Linked DNA regions of Homo sapiens: region 2 is linked to region 1. Evidence: fine-mapped expression QTL. Tissue or cell type: whole blood. Region 1 holds a variant in brackets; the other region holds the start of a gene. All regions are shown on one strand. Distances are between the middles of the regions.

What was found. PIP is the estimated chance that this variant, and not a neighbour inherited with it, causes the effect.
Region 2: UBASH3B starts here. The variant in region 1 is fine-mapped to the expression of UBASH3B in whole blood (INTERVAL, PIP above 0.99). The same link has a PIP of 0.9 or more in neutrophils.

The regions. Positions count from the first base shown.
Region 1 is chr11:122,694,853-122,703,602 of GRCh38, reverse strand. All of the region lies in intron 1 of UBASH3B (ubiquitin associated and SH3 domain containing B), which reads right to left. Among named protein-coding and RNA genes, the nearest start is that of UBASH3B, 44 kb to the right of the region's middle. The variant C/T (reference allele first, on the strand shown) is at 5,065.
Region 2 is chr11:122,653,203-122,658,202 of GRCh38, reverse strand. UBASH3B (ubiquitin associated and SH3 domain containing B) reads right to left here and starts at 2,481. Exons shown (of 14, transcript NM_032873.5): 1 at 1,993-2,481. The coding sequence starts at 2,153. RefSeq lists a silencer at 1,822-1,871 and an enhancer at 2,075-2,576.

The DNA.
Region 1 (8,750 bases):
GACATGATCTAAACTTCTTTTTGAAATCAATAAACTGCCCCAGTTTCTAAACCTAATCTATGACTTGCAGGCATTTTCCCCCATATTTCCAAGGGAATAAGCATCATTTGACACTATTTATTTTGAAAAGCGGTGGTGGAGGGGAGAAACAATATATTTCTTTCTTTTTTTTTTTTGAGACGGAGGCCTGCTCTGTTGCCCAGGCTGGAGTGCAGTGGCACAATCTCGGCCCACTGCAACCTCCGCCTCCTGGGTTCAAGCGATTCTCCTGCCTCAGCCTCCCGAGTAGCTGGGACTACAGGCACCCACCACCACGCCTGGCTAATTTTTTGTATTTTTAGTAGAGACGGGGTTTCACTGTGTTAGCCAGGATGCTCTCAATCTCCCGACCTCGTGATCCGCCCACCTCAGCCTCCCAAAGTGCTGGGATTTACAGGCATGAGCCACCGTGCCCGGCCAAAGAAAAAAATATTTCAAAGAAGTGGCATGTCCACCACCAACCCTGTTCAGTAAACATCTACTAAGTACCTGCTGTGGGCGAGGCTTGGGGGAAAGAGGAAAGAGGACATTTCAAAAGGAATCAGATACAGCACTGATCTTGAGGGAGTGTCCAATTTGTTTATAGAATGAGTGAATAAATGAGAAAACAAATGATGAGTGAATGCAGAATCAGGATTAGTAGTAAGTTTTATAGCAATTCCACTCCTTCATTTAATGATGTTAGTATAATTCAAAGATGAGTGAGGAGAATATAAATTTTTCCTGAGTTAAAAATCTGGCCAGGCACGGTGGCTCACGCCTGTAATCCCCAGCACTTTGGGAGGCCGAGGCGGGTGGATCACCTGACGTCAGGAGTTAGAGACCAGCCTGGCTGACATGGTGAAACCCTGTCTCTACTAAAAATACAAAAATTTGCCGGGTGTGGTAGCATGCGCCTGTAATCTCAGCTACTCGAGAGGCTGAAGCAGGAGAATCGCTTGAACTCGGGAGGCAAAGGTTGCAGTAAGCTGAGATCGCACCATTGCACTCCAGCCTCGGCGACAAGAGCAAAATTCCATCTGAAAAAAAAAAAAACCTGGTGATTTTTTTTCCTACTGCTTACTGTTTTATCTGTTCCCCAAAACTCCAAACACGTTTCTTGCAACCTAGGGTTCTCTGAAATCTCCAATCTGACCTTGAACGATGAAGGCAAGGGATCTCCGTGCTTGGTAGGGGTAGGGTCCTATATTATACTTTATGTGATGATATTCTCTGGCCTCCTTTAAGTACTTTAAAAAGATCTTTATTTTAGACTCTTCTCTCTCCATGCTGATGTCATTAGTATTCTGGATGAAATGTTTCCTTGCACGTAACTATGTTGGACTTGGATTCATTACTAAAGCAAATAATTCGGTTTTCCTAGGAACAAATGCTACTTTTCCTCATGGGCTGTTTGCTGACCATCCCTCTTGGTTGAGCATACGCTGCATTACTTGGAAGCCACATGTTAGGACTAAGGGAGACATAGAGAAGTAAAGAACACAGCATCTGTCCTCAAAGAAACGGTCGTCTTCACTGGGAGGGAAGATTGAAATGTGGCATTACAGCTGGGCGTGGTGGTTCACACTTGTAATCCCAGCATTTTGGGAGGCCGAGGCAGGAGGATCACGTGAGCCCAGGAGTTTGAGGCTGCGGTGAGCATGATCATGCCACTACATGCCAGCCTGGGTGACAGAGCAAGACACAGTTTCTTGGAAACAAACAAACAAACAAACATGGCAGTACGAGGGCTCAGAAGGGAAGATGCTAATATATTCACTCAGAGTTCAGAAAAGGCAGATGGTTTGCTTTGGGCAAAAGTTGTCAGGAGAGGTTTTCAGACCAAAGCAAGGACATCTTGAGGGGAGAGTCAAAAGGAAAGAATTAATCCTATTTTCAGCTCTCTATCCCTGAATACTCTTAGTTCCTTCAAGCAGCAGTGGGCTAACAAGTGATGCTACAGGACCGTATGCCAATGCAAGCGAGGACCCTGTGACCTTCAACAGACCTCTGCGTCACCATGGAGCTTTGAGATGAGTGTCAGAAGGAAGAACAAGCTCATTTTGAAAAGTACACAGACGTTGGAAACTGTGAGTATTACCCAAAAAAAAGCTTGAAAGGCTCCCATCCCCATCGGGTGACCAGCAGAACTTGCCACTGCAAGAGCCTCGTTCTCATTAATAAGAGTTCATTTTATTATTTCCATGCTATGTAATTTCTCCCACTGCCTTTTAGACTGGAACATTCAACTTTTTGCACTTCATATTAATTACCCTGGGGGATTCAGGCTACAGTGCACAATAAGAAGACCCAATTAGAACATTGCCTACTGTCTTTTTGTTTCTTTGTAATCCAAAATCAATCAATAACATCCTTAAATCCTCACAAGAAATGACTAGAGTTATTAACGTCTTGGACAAAGAAGCCAAGAAATTCAAAGCAGATGGAGCAGAATCACACAAATCACACAACCATGCAAATTAGTAGCAGCCCGTGGGCTTGACAGGGTCAGAATGCTGGGGGTTGGGAATTTTTAATATGAAACAGAAAATATACCCCATAACACTAATGTTCTTTTTGTGATGAGACGTGATGATTCTGGTTTAATGTGGAGCAGGGTGTCTTCAGGAGCTCTGAGAAAACACAGGCTTCCCAGTGCTCATCTACATAGCACATCCCTGTCTGGGACAGTTTACTGTTCACCCTACATGAAGTGTTCTCTCACCTGTCAGAAACACACTTCCTCTACAAATTGCATCCCCTACTGTTAACATCAAGATCAGAAGTAGGCCAGGTGCTTTGGCTCATGCCTATATTCCCAGCGCTTTGGGAGGCCGAGGAGGGTGGATCACCTGAGGCCAGGAGTTCAAGACCAGCTTGACCAACATGGTGAAACCCCATCTCTACTAAAAATACAAAATTTAGCTGGGTGTGGTGGTGAGCACCTGTAATCCCAGCTACTGGGGAGGCTGAGGCAGGAGAATTGTTTGAACCCGGGAGGTGGAGGTTGCAGTGAGCCGATATCATGCCACTGCACTTCAGACTAGGTGACAGAGCGAGACTCCATCTCAAAAAAAAAAAAAAAAAGATCAGAAGTAAACTATGAGAGTGAGTAAGATGAACATATGAACATTTACATTGAAAAATGTGAAAAAAACTTAAGATGTAATGGTGTTTGGAAAAGAATTGTTAACTGTATCCACTAAACCATAAAGCTTAACAAAATCCCAAACTTGGGAAATGAATTTTAAAAATGGACTCACCATGTGTAACTCTGGTCAGAGCCTAAACAAAGGAGGAGACAAAGCTTATGATGTCAGCCCATCTCATTCAGCACTGGGGACTTTGTGCTAGTTCAAAGTGTTGAGGAATTGGATCTCTACCTAATCATAAGAGACTGACCTCTTCCTCACTCCAACAGCGGTGCTGCTCCCGGGGGAATGATGGTTACCTCAGTTTCTCTTGGCCTCTCAGATGTGCAGCATGTCGGGTCTCCGCTAGTACCCACACATGATACCTCATGCTGCAAACCTACCCACTGAATACGGCCAAGTGAATAAAGCACCACCAACAACACGACCTCTAGTTCCACTGCTGGGCTCTGGGTACCATTGTCAATTCCTTGATCGATTTCCAAAGCTAAACAATAATATTTACGTAAACCTTAATAGATTACAAGACATTGAAATATCAGTCATCTGGGCTGGGCATGGTGACTCATGCCTGTAATCCCAGCACTTTGGGAGGCCGAGGCAGGTAGATTACTTGAGCTCAGGAGTTCAAGACCAGCCAGAGCAACATGGCGAAACCATGTCTCTACAAAAAAATACAAAAATTATCTGGCTGTCATGGCATTTGCCTCTAGTCCTAGCTACTCAGGAGGCTGAGGTGGGAGGATCGCTTGAGCCCTGGAGGCGGAGGTTGCAGTAACCAGAGATTGCACCACTGCACTACAGCCTGGTGGCAGAGGGAGACCTTGTTTCAAAAAAAAAAGAAAGGAAAGAAAGAAAAGAAAGAAAGAAAGAAAGAAAGAAAGAAAGAAAGAAAGAAAGAGAAAGAAAGAAAGAGAAAGAAAGAAAGAAAGATTTAAAAAGAAAAATCAGTCATCTGATGTGTTTCTCACAATAATTTTGGAAGGTGGATAATATTATCCACAGGCATTTCACAGAAGAAGAGATAGCATAGAGGTTGCAGGAAATGCCAAGAACACATAGCAGCTTCCTAAGATTCAAACTCAATTCGGTGACTCCACGTGCCACACTCCTCTGAGTTGTGAGTTCTCTAAGATGAAGATCACATTTTTCCATCTGTAAGACACTGAGTGTTGCCATGAGGATTAAATAAAATAACCTAGGTACAGCAGGCACCTAATAGATACCAGTTCCCTCCCATGCCCCTCCTCCATCAGGGGCGAAAAGATTTAAAAATAATCCCAATCCGGGCGCAGTGGCTCACGCCTGGAATCCCAGCACTTCGGGAGGCCAAGGCAGGTGGATCACCTGAGGTCAGGAGTTCGAGACCAGCCTGGCCAACATGGAGAAACCCCGTCTCTACTAAAAATACGAAAATTAGCTGGGTGTGGTGCTGGGCACCTGCAGCCCCAGCTATTCAGGGGGCTGAGGCACGATAATCGCTTGAACTGGGAGGTGGATGTTGCAGCGAGCCGAGATCGCAACATTGCACTCCAGCATGGGCTACAAGAGCAAAACTCCATCTCAAATAAATAAATAAATAAAATCCCAGTATATGGTCTGCACACACTACACATTTATAACCACAACTTCAGATTAAAGTGAACATTAATGACCGTACTGAAGCAAATAGATTTCCAGAGGCATGGGGAGTGCTGGGTGTCGGGTGGATGGAATGTGGGGGCTGTGGGATCATTGGGAGTTAGGGAACTAGCTTTAGGTTCTGACCATTGTAGCAACTCAGTGAGCCTCCACACACGGCACCCAGGATGCTCCCACACCTGGTTTCTAGTATCCTCACAGCTGGCACCTGCCTTACCAAACATATGCCCCAGGCTCTCCCATACTGTGAGTG[C/T]AGTTTTCATTACATAATGCATCCATCTTCTTGCTCTTCTTTAGCCTTATACCATCCTAATTTTCTATAGTTCCAAAGCCATTCTCTCCTGCCTTGTTGCAAGGTGGGGAGAAAATGTAAAATTCAAATGGTCACATAGTGTTACTTGGGAACAACTTTTGCCAGAGCCTAGATGAGGGGCATGGAAGATTTTGGAAGGTGGGGAGCAACAGAAGATAGAAATCCATGCCTGGTGTGAATTGCAACAAAAATTTGGCGTGACTATGGGGGTATGGGTAGGGGGAGAGGAGGTCATCTGCAATGTTGACAACTTTTCATCTAATACGACAGAGGAGAATTCCAACTCTAAGAGAAGAGATCTGCCAGGTATACTGGCAAGAACACTGAGACTACGTGGCTGAGCCCAGCTCTGCCCTTAATTTGCCAGAGCAGTCATTCCACCACCCTGGTTTCCTCACTGAGAGAATGTGCGGGTTGGACAGGGCTGGCTTTGGAATGAGACAAATCTAGGTTCAAATGCAGGCTCCATCACTGACTCGTTATGCAACTTTCGGCAAGTTTCCTTACATCGCCACGCCCCAGTGCTCTTAACTGTCAGATGAAAATGAGAGAATGTGTTTCCGGAGGCTGTTTGAGAATTAAATGAGGAGGTATATAAATATACTCCCCCTTGGACAGTGTCAGGTCTATGAAGCTCCCAGCACAGCAGCTGCTTCCTCTTTTCTTTATTCTAAGTTGCTGTAAACCCATGTATCTATGGTGCAACGCAATGACTCAATCCTTGCTTATTTAATGTGGCTATCCTGCCCAACCTAAGTCCTGACTATCAAGGTACTGAGGTGCTGTATGCTGAAGCAGCAAATAAACAATTCACATTGGACAAGAAGATGGAAACAAGTGTGAGGGAGGATGGTGGAGGAAAAAGGATCCAGAAGTGGGAGGCAGTGGATCTGGGTTCGAATTCTAGCGCCCTCAGTCACTAGAAATCTCTGGAACTCTATTTGCTTCAGTACGGTCATTAATGTTCACTTTAATCTGAAGTTGTGGGTATAAATGTGTAGTGTGTGCAGACCATATACTGGGATTTTATTTATTTATTTATTTGAGACGTAGTTTTGCTCTTGTAGCCCATGCTGGAGTGCAATGTTGCGATCTCGGCTCACTGCAACCTCCACCTCCCAGTTCAAGCGATTATCATGCCTCAGCCCCCTGAATAGCTGGGATTTCTGAGCTTCAGTTTTCTCTTCTGTAATAAAGGGAATAATCACATATGTAAAAGTACTTTGTCGATTGGAAAGCGCAATTGAAATGTTAGTGGTCTGTTATGCCACCATTCCCGTTGTTTGGAGAGTCCAATTACTTGAGTTTGAAAAATGTTTTGAGAGCTATCTAATTCCTCTTAGCAGTCAAACAAAACTTCAAACTTCCCCCCCAAACCCTAATCTTCAAAATCAAATGGCTGCTATGTAGATTACTGATGTATCCCCAAAAGAGCTGGGCTGACTTTTCTTTGCTATGAACAAACACCGCCAGTGACCCACTGGAGTCACCAACTCCTGGTGGCCTGATCTTTACTTGAAAAACAATACGGTAAACCACCCTCCTATTTTAACAGCTAGCACAGGGCAGGGCGGGAGGAACCCCCACCCACGCTTGCTCTGAACAGAAATCGTGCTGCAGCTGATGTGAAAACAAGATAAGGAGAAATGTCTGTCAACAGACTCCGGCCTGCCCTAGAACTGGGGTGCTCTCCGTGTATTCTGTACAGATGGGAAGGCAGGGGCCATTAGCCACCTGCAATTCTGCTCTGATGTGGCTGCGGTACTAAACACGGCCCAGGAAAGGGTGGGCATAGCTCGGACACACGTGCAACTTACACATTCTAGTCTTTAGCTAAAGTCTTTGAAAATACAGATTTAGAAATGTAGTATTGGTTGGGTGCAGTGGCTCACTCCTGTAATCCTGGCACTTTAGGAGTACCAGGTGGATCACCAGAGGTCAGGCATTTGAGACCAGCCTAGCCAACATGGTGAAACCCTGTCTCGACTAAAAATGCAAAAATTAGCTGGGCATGGTGGCAGGTGCCTATAATCCAAGCTACTCAGGAGGCTGAGGCAGGAGAATCGCTTGAACCCGGGAGGCAGAGGTTGCACTCCAGCCTGGGTGACAGAACGAGTCTTCATCTCAAAAACAAAAAGAAAAAAGAAAAAGAAACGTAGGGCCCTGAAGAAATCCTCATTAAGGTTAAAATCCTGCCGGCTTATTACCGAGAAATTAAAAACTATTTGGGGCCGGGCGCAGTAGCTCATGCCTGTAATCCCAGCGCTTTGGGAGGCCAAGGTGGGCAAACCACCTGAGGTCAGGAGTTCAAGACCAGTCTGGCCAACATGGTGAAACCCCGTCTCTACTAAAAATACAAAAATTATCCAGGCATGGTGGTGGGCACCTATAATCCCAGCTACTCAGGTGGCTGAGGCAGGAGATTCGCTTAAACCTGGGAGACGGAAGCTACAGTGAGCAGCGATCGCACCACTACACTCCAGCCTGGGCAACAGAATGAGACTCTGTCTCAAAAAATAAAAATAAAATAAAAAATAAAAAAACTATTTGGTTATCAGGCTGAGTGGAAACATAAGCTCAATGTGACTATTTAGTAACTTCCCAACAGTTCTAAACTACCACCCGTAGCTCTAAATGAAAACTTCATTTTTTAACCACTTTGGGCATGGCTGGGATGTAGGAATCAATGTGTTGATGCAAAAATGCTGCAAGGCAGTTCTTTTCTCTGTCTTTCCTGAGCATCATTAGACCTCCAGGGAGTGAGGCACTGTGTAACTGAAGGTCCAAACAACATATCCAAGGCACTAAGAGGATCACAATGCATAAAACACGATGTGCATAAATGCTGATGGATAACGGGGAAAAAGTAAAAAAGAAAAGAAAAAAAAGGAAAGAAAACCACAGAGTCTCCTAAGAGCTGCTGAAATGGCGACAGCATCAGACACTTATTAGCATTCACCACTCAAGGAGATATTCCCAGAAGGGGTTGAAGCGTTATCAAGGTTGGGAGGACTCAGCATGTTTGCAGAGGAGGAGCCGGATGCATATGCTCACCAGCCTGCTGGCACGAGTACTGGAAACTCCCACCCATCCGCAGGCTCTGATCAGATCATGCCAGAGCTTCAAGCTCCTTCCAGGCATCCATGCAACTGAGTGATGACAGGAGTGGATAGAAGAAATAAATGCAAGGTTTTGAATTTTAAAGCAGACCAGTGGGCCGGGCGCGGTGGCTCACGCCTGCAATCCCAGCACTTTGGGAGGCCAAGACGGGTGGATCACTTGAGGTCGGGAGTTCAAGACCAGCCTGGCCAACATGGTGAAACCCCGTGTCTAAGAAAAATGCAAAAATTAGCCGGGCATGGTAGCAGGTGCCTGTAATCCCAGCTACTAGGGAGGCTGAGACAGGAGAATCGCTTGAACCCGGGAGGCAGAGGTGGTGGTGAGCTGAAATCGTGCCACTGCACTCCAGCCTGGGGGAAAGAGGGAGACTCCACCTCAAAAAAAAAAAAAAAAAAAAAAAAAAAGAAAGAAAAGAAAAGAAAAATAAATAAAATAAAATAAAAATAAAGCACATCACTGGTGGATGGCATACCCTGGCATACCTCAAATTAAGCACAGGCTAAGTG
Region 2 (5,000 bases), 44 kb after region 1:
CTCCAGCTTTTTTTTTTTTTTTTTCTTGAGATGAAGTCTCGCTCTGTAACCCAGGCTAGAGTGCAGTGGTGCGATCTTGGCTCACTACAACCTCCACCTACTGGGCTCAAGCGATTCTCTTATCTCAGCCTCCCAAGTAGCTGGGATTACAGGCATGCACCACCCCACCCAGCTAATTTTTGTATTTTTAGTAAAGACAGGGTTTCACCATGTTGGCCAGGCTGGTCTCAAACTTCTGATCTCAAGTGATCCGGCTGCCTCAGCCTCCCAAACTGCTGGGGTTACACCCAGCCCCACCTCCAGTTTTTAAGGAGAGCTGTGCACATTGATCATCCACACCGACGACTTCACCTGAAGCGTCCACACCTGACACACCCCTGCAGAACCCACATTTTCTCCCTGTAATTCTGGTATCAGGAACTGGAGCCCTAGTATTAGGAAGTCGTATTGGGACGTCAGTGGAAGGCAGAAACCATCAGTCCATTTTGCAGCCTTCTAAGGCCACTCCAACGTGTCCCAGCAGCCTGGAGAATAACAAATTCAAGGGTCTACTTTGATTAACAGATTACAACCAAGTTAGTAGAGAATAAACAAGGTTTGCCCAGAGATAAGGGAGGGGAGACATAAAGTTATTGCCTGTAATCCCAGCACTTTGGGAGACCGAGGTGGGTGGATCACCTGAGGTCAGGAGTTCGAGACCAGCCTGGCCAACATGGCAGAACCCCATCTCTTCTAAAAATATAAAAATTAGCCCGGTGTGGTGGCGCATGTCTATGGTCCCAGCTACTCAGGAGGCTAAGGTGGGAGAATCGCTTGAACCTGGGAGGCGGAAGTTACAGAGATTGCGCCACTGCACTCTAGCCTGGCGACACAGCGAGACTCCGTCTCAGAAAAATAAATACATAAATAAAGTTATCACCTGAAAAAAAAATGTGAGAAGGGAAAAAAATAAAAAGGACTTTCATTTACTTGGCCCTCACTGATTAAGTTTGGCCAACTCTCCTGTTCAGGTGCTGTAATTCAAAGATGAAAAGAAGCTGCGCCCAGTCCGGACGCCAGGCCTTGTGTCCCCACCTAAGAAATCTGCACGGCAGGGATTAACCAGGGGAGAAGGGCCTGGCCGCTGGGCCTTGGCTTCCTCTTAGGCAGAGTTCCAGCCCCTGAGACTTGAGCCGACCGGCCTGAGACGACTCCGGCCGCCGCCACCCTATGCTGGCAAACAGGCCTCTCCCCAGCAGGCTCCAGGGGCAGCCACCTGCGCTCTCCCTGCCCTCCCCTACCCCACTCTCCTAGAGGAAGGATGAAGAACAGCTCCCCCTCCTTACTCTCAGGCACCCACAGATTTCTGAGCTGCCGTCACCACTGACGAGAACCCAGGTCCCCTGGAGGGATCGCTTCTCCTTCTGATTCCATCCTCCCCATCAATGAACACGCAGGAACACCCACGCTCCCGCTCCTCCTACTCCAGGGGGAGACCGAACCCGAGAGCGACATCCGGAGCTGGAAGCCGCTGCAACGGGGGCGCCGGCCTCCCTGCCCCGCAGTCTCCCGCCCTTTCCCAGACACCGGAGGATCCCAGACCAGCCCAGTATTCCAGACGGAGAGGGTGCCCGAGTCCTCCGCAGGGCCCCGCCTCCCTAGGCGCTCGGCGCTGGAGACCTAGGGGAGCGCGCGAGAGAAACGCTGAGCTCCACCCGGCTGGGGCGGAGGCTGAGCACTATACCCGGGACTCGAACCCCGCGCCCTCGTCCCCCAGCTTTAGGCATCCCACGGCGAGCCCTGGCCCAACGCCCCCGCGCCGCGTCTTCCCCCGCACCCCCGCCCGGAGCCGAGTCCCGGGTTGCCAGCGCGCCCATCCCGCCCCCAACAGGTCTCGGGCAGCGGGGAGCGCGCTGCCTGTCCCGCAGGCGCTGGGAGGCGAGCCGGAGCGAAGCCGAGGGCCGGCCGCGCGCGCGGGAGGGGTCGCCGAGGGCTGCGAGCCCGGCCACTTACGCGCGGGCTCTGGGGAACCCCATGGAGAGGAGCACGTCCAGCGCCGATCCATGCTTGATGGTGCCGGGGCGCTGTTGGCGGTTCCTCCGGGGGGTGACTTTGCTGTACAGCTCCTCTCTCGCAGCCATGCCGAGCGGACTGGGGTGGCCGTACTGAGCCATGGCTCAGCGGCCAGCCATCGCCAGGGAAGGAGCCCGAGCCGGATGGTTCGGGAAGGAGGAGGGAGTCGGGCTGGGCCAGGGGAGGGGGCTCGGGGACCCAGAGCCAGGCAGGAGGCGGCGGCAGCGGAGGCGGCGCTCCGAGCTTCCCCAGTGTCGGGACTCTGACGCTTCCTGGTGAGGCCACAGGAGCCAGAACGCCGGCAAGCGGCCGCTGCGGGACCAGCCTCAGCCACTCGGGCCCCCGGCTGCCCCCAGCTCTGCGCCTGCAGTAGCCCTGTCTCCTCCGCCCCCTTCCCTCTCCTCGCCTAGCAGTCCGGGAATTTGCAATGAGTAATTTTTGAATGGATCAAAAAGGAAAAGGAGCCTTGTGGGCTGGCCCTGACTTGCCTGTACCCGGGCCCCGCCCCTCTCTTAAAGCGGCCGCGCTGTCCGAGGCTGCTCCGTGCGGGCAAGAGCTGTAGTCGCGCTACTTGGAGACGGAGGATCCCAACCTTATGGGCTGCTTGTGTGCTTCACCTCCCGAGAGTCACCCCCGGCGCCCCAGCCCTCTCCTTGGCTGGCATACCCGCCCAGCTGGGCCTCAAGACAGGAGATCAACCCATCTCAAGTTTCATGTGATTCTAGATGCGGTTATTAATGGAAATTGGGTGAACTGGTGGATGATACTAATGGACCAGAAGGCCAAGCCGTAAGGCCTAGGTAAAAGGTTTTGCTTCTCAAAGATCCTGCAAAACCCAAAGGGTTGTTAGGACCATCGGAAGTTGAGTTCCCAATCAGCCGGCCAAGTGGCTGCACTAAAGACCTACTGCGCTCTACAAGGTTATGGTCAGTGACTGAATAGTGCCTTCCCGGTGGGGCAGAGGGGTTGGGGAGAAGGACCTCAGGTTCTCAGAGGTGGCAGGACCTGGGAGGGGACAAGAAAAGAGGGACAGGGCAGAAAGAAGAGGGAAGGGAAAAAGAAAGGAGGAAGGAGGAGGAGAAGAAGGAAGGGCTAGGAGGGTAGAGGAAGAAGGAACAGAGAAAACATACTTCCTAATTATAAGAGGTGTTCAAAAGGGAACGGGCTTATTTCATTAGGGAGTGGATATCCTGTCAATAAAAGGATTCAAAGACGGACCGAATCACCACTGCACAATAATAAGTGAATTGTATCATAGGCTGGACAAAACTACTCCCACTGCAAAGATGGTGGAAGCCACAACCATATTGATGCCCCATGCCCCACCTGGTGAATTTGGCTGGGGGATGCTAACCCTCTTTCGTTTGGAAACAAAGTCATTGTCTTCAGTCAGGGACAAGGGTCCCACTTGCTATAATGAAAGAGGCAATGAGTACACCCTAACTGATAGTCTTTTTTGGGTAATAATAATAATAAAACCTAACATTTATTGGGCTCTTGTATGTGCCAGTCATTGTGCTAATCGTAATGAATGAACTCACTGAAGTTTTATACTGACCCTAGGAGTGTGTTTAATCATTATCCCAGTTTTACAGATGAGAAAACTCAGCTCAGAGAGGTTGGGGAAGATCATAGAGCTGGTAAGTGCGTAGCTACAGCACTCGTATCCACTGCGGTGCCTTAGACAAGTTACTTCTCTCTACAGCCTAATTTCCTCATTGGTATGGACCGTGGTAACCTAACCTTGCACACACTGGGTTTTCCAGAAATGTCAGTCCGGGCCTGTCCCTGGTTGGAATATGGGGGAGGGATGGTGACCAGCACCCATGGAGTGGCTTTTTGAGGTTGCTTTATAAGGCCTGTGAAGGTTTTACCAGGGGAAATGATACAGTGTAACTCCCTGAGCCCGGAATTGGTTTCCTAAAGAATAGCCAGTGGTGTTTGGAAGCAGGGAGATAAGACAGCTGGAGCTTAAGCAACAATGTGTATTAATTCTGCCTCCTGCTGTACAAAGGATGAGGGAAAATTAATGCTTCCTGGGTAGTAGCTGCTTCCAGAGCAAAGGGGATATCCTGGAGACCTTGCAGAATGCTCTTCCAGGACATGGAGCAAAAAGACAAGACTGGGCTGGCAACACCATACCTAGTATTAGCCTCCTTGGATGTGTTCGGTAAAACATGCTGGATTTTATCCAGTATTCTGAATTGTTTCCAAATGCCTGGGCTGAAAGTCAAATGATCTGGATCTTAGTCAAGAGATAATAATGTATGTGAAAGCGCTTTGTAAACCATAAAGCGCTACATAAATGATAACTCAAATTTATTGAGTACTTACTATATGCTGGTGTTGTTCTTTGCTTCTTACATATGTGACTCAAACAATTCCTTGACAAGACTATGAACTAGGAACTACTTTACAAATGAAGGTGCTGAGCCAGAGGTCAAGTATCTTGTCCAAGGTCACATGGCTAGTAAATGGCAGAGCCAAGATTTGAACTCTTAACATTTGGCCAAACAACTAGTTAACGACCATTGTTATGATGATAAAAGGACACCAGCCTTTAAGATAGTTTTTTGACTCCATCTATGCCCCTTGACATAGAATTGCTGGATCTCTGTTTCTCCAGAAAAATTGAATTAATTGTCTTTCTCCCTGCCTTTAGGCAAACTGTAAGATAAAGGAAATGATGCATATAAAAATAGTTTTAGGTAGACTGGAAAAAGCACTATGAAAAACTAGGCACCTGAGATGCAAACTGTTTTTGTCTGGGACACTTTTACAGAAATCCCAGCTTGGCTTCCTCACTTGTCTTCAGCTCAGTGCAAACCCCTGTTTTATTTAGGACTCCTGCCATTTGTTCTGCACTGGGTTGGGGGGCTGGCAATTCAGATGCATTGTGCTTTAATTGTGTTGACGTTGAAAAGCTAGGAAAAGCTTCATAAATGTCT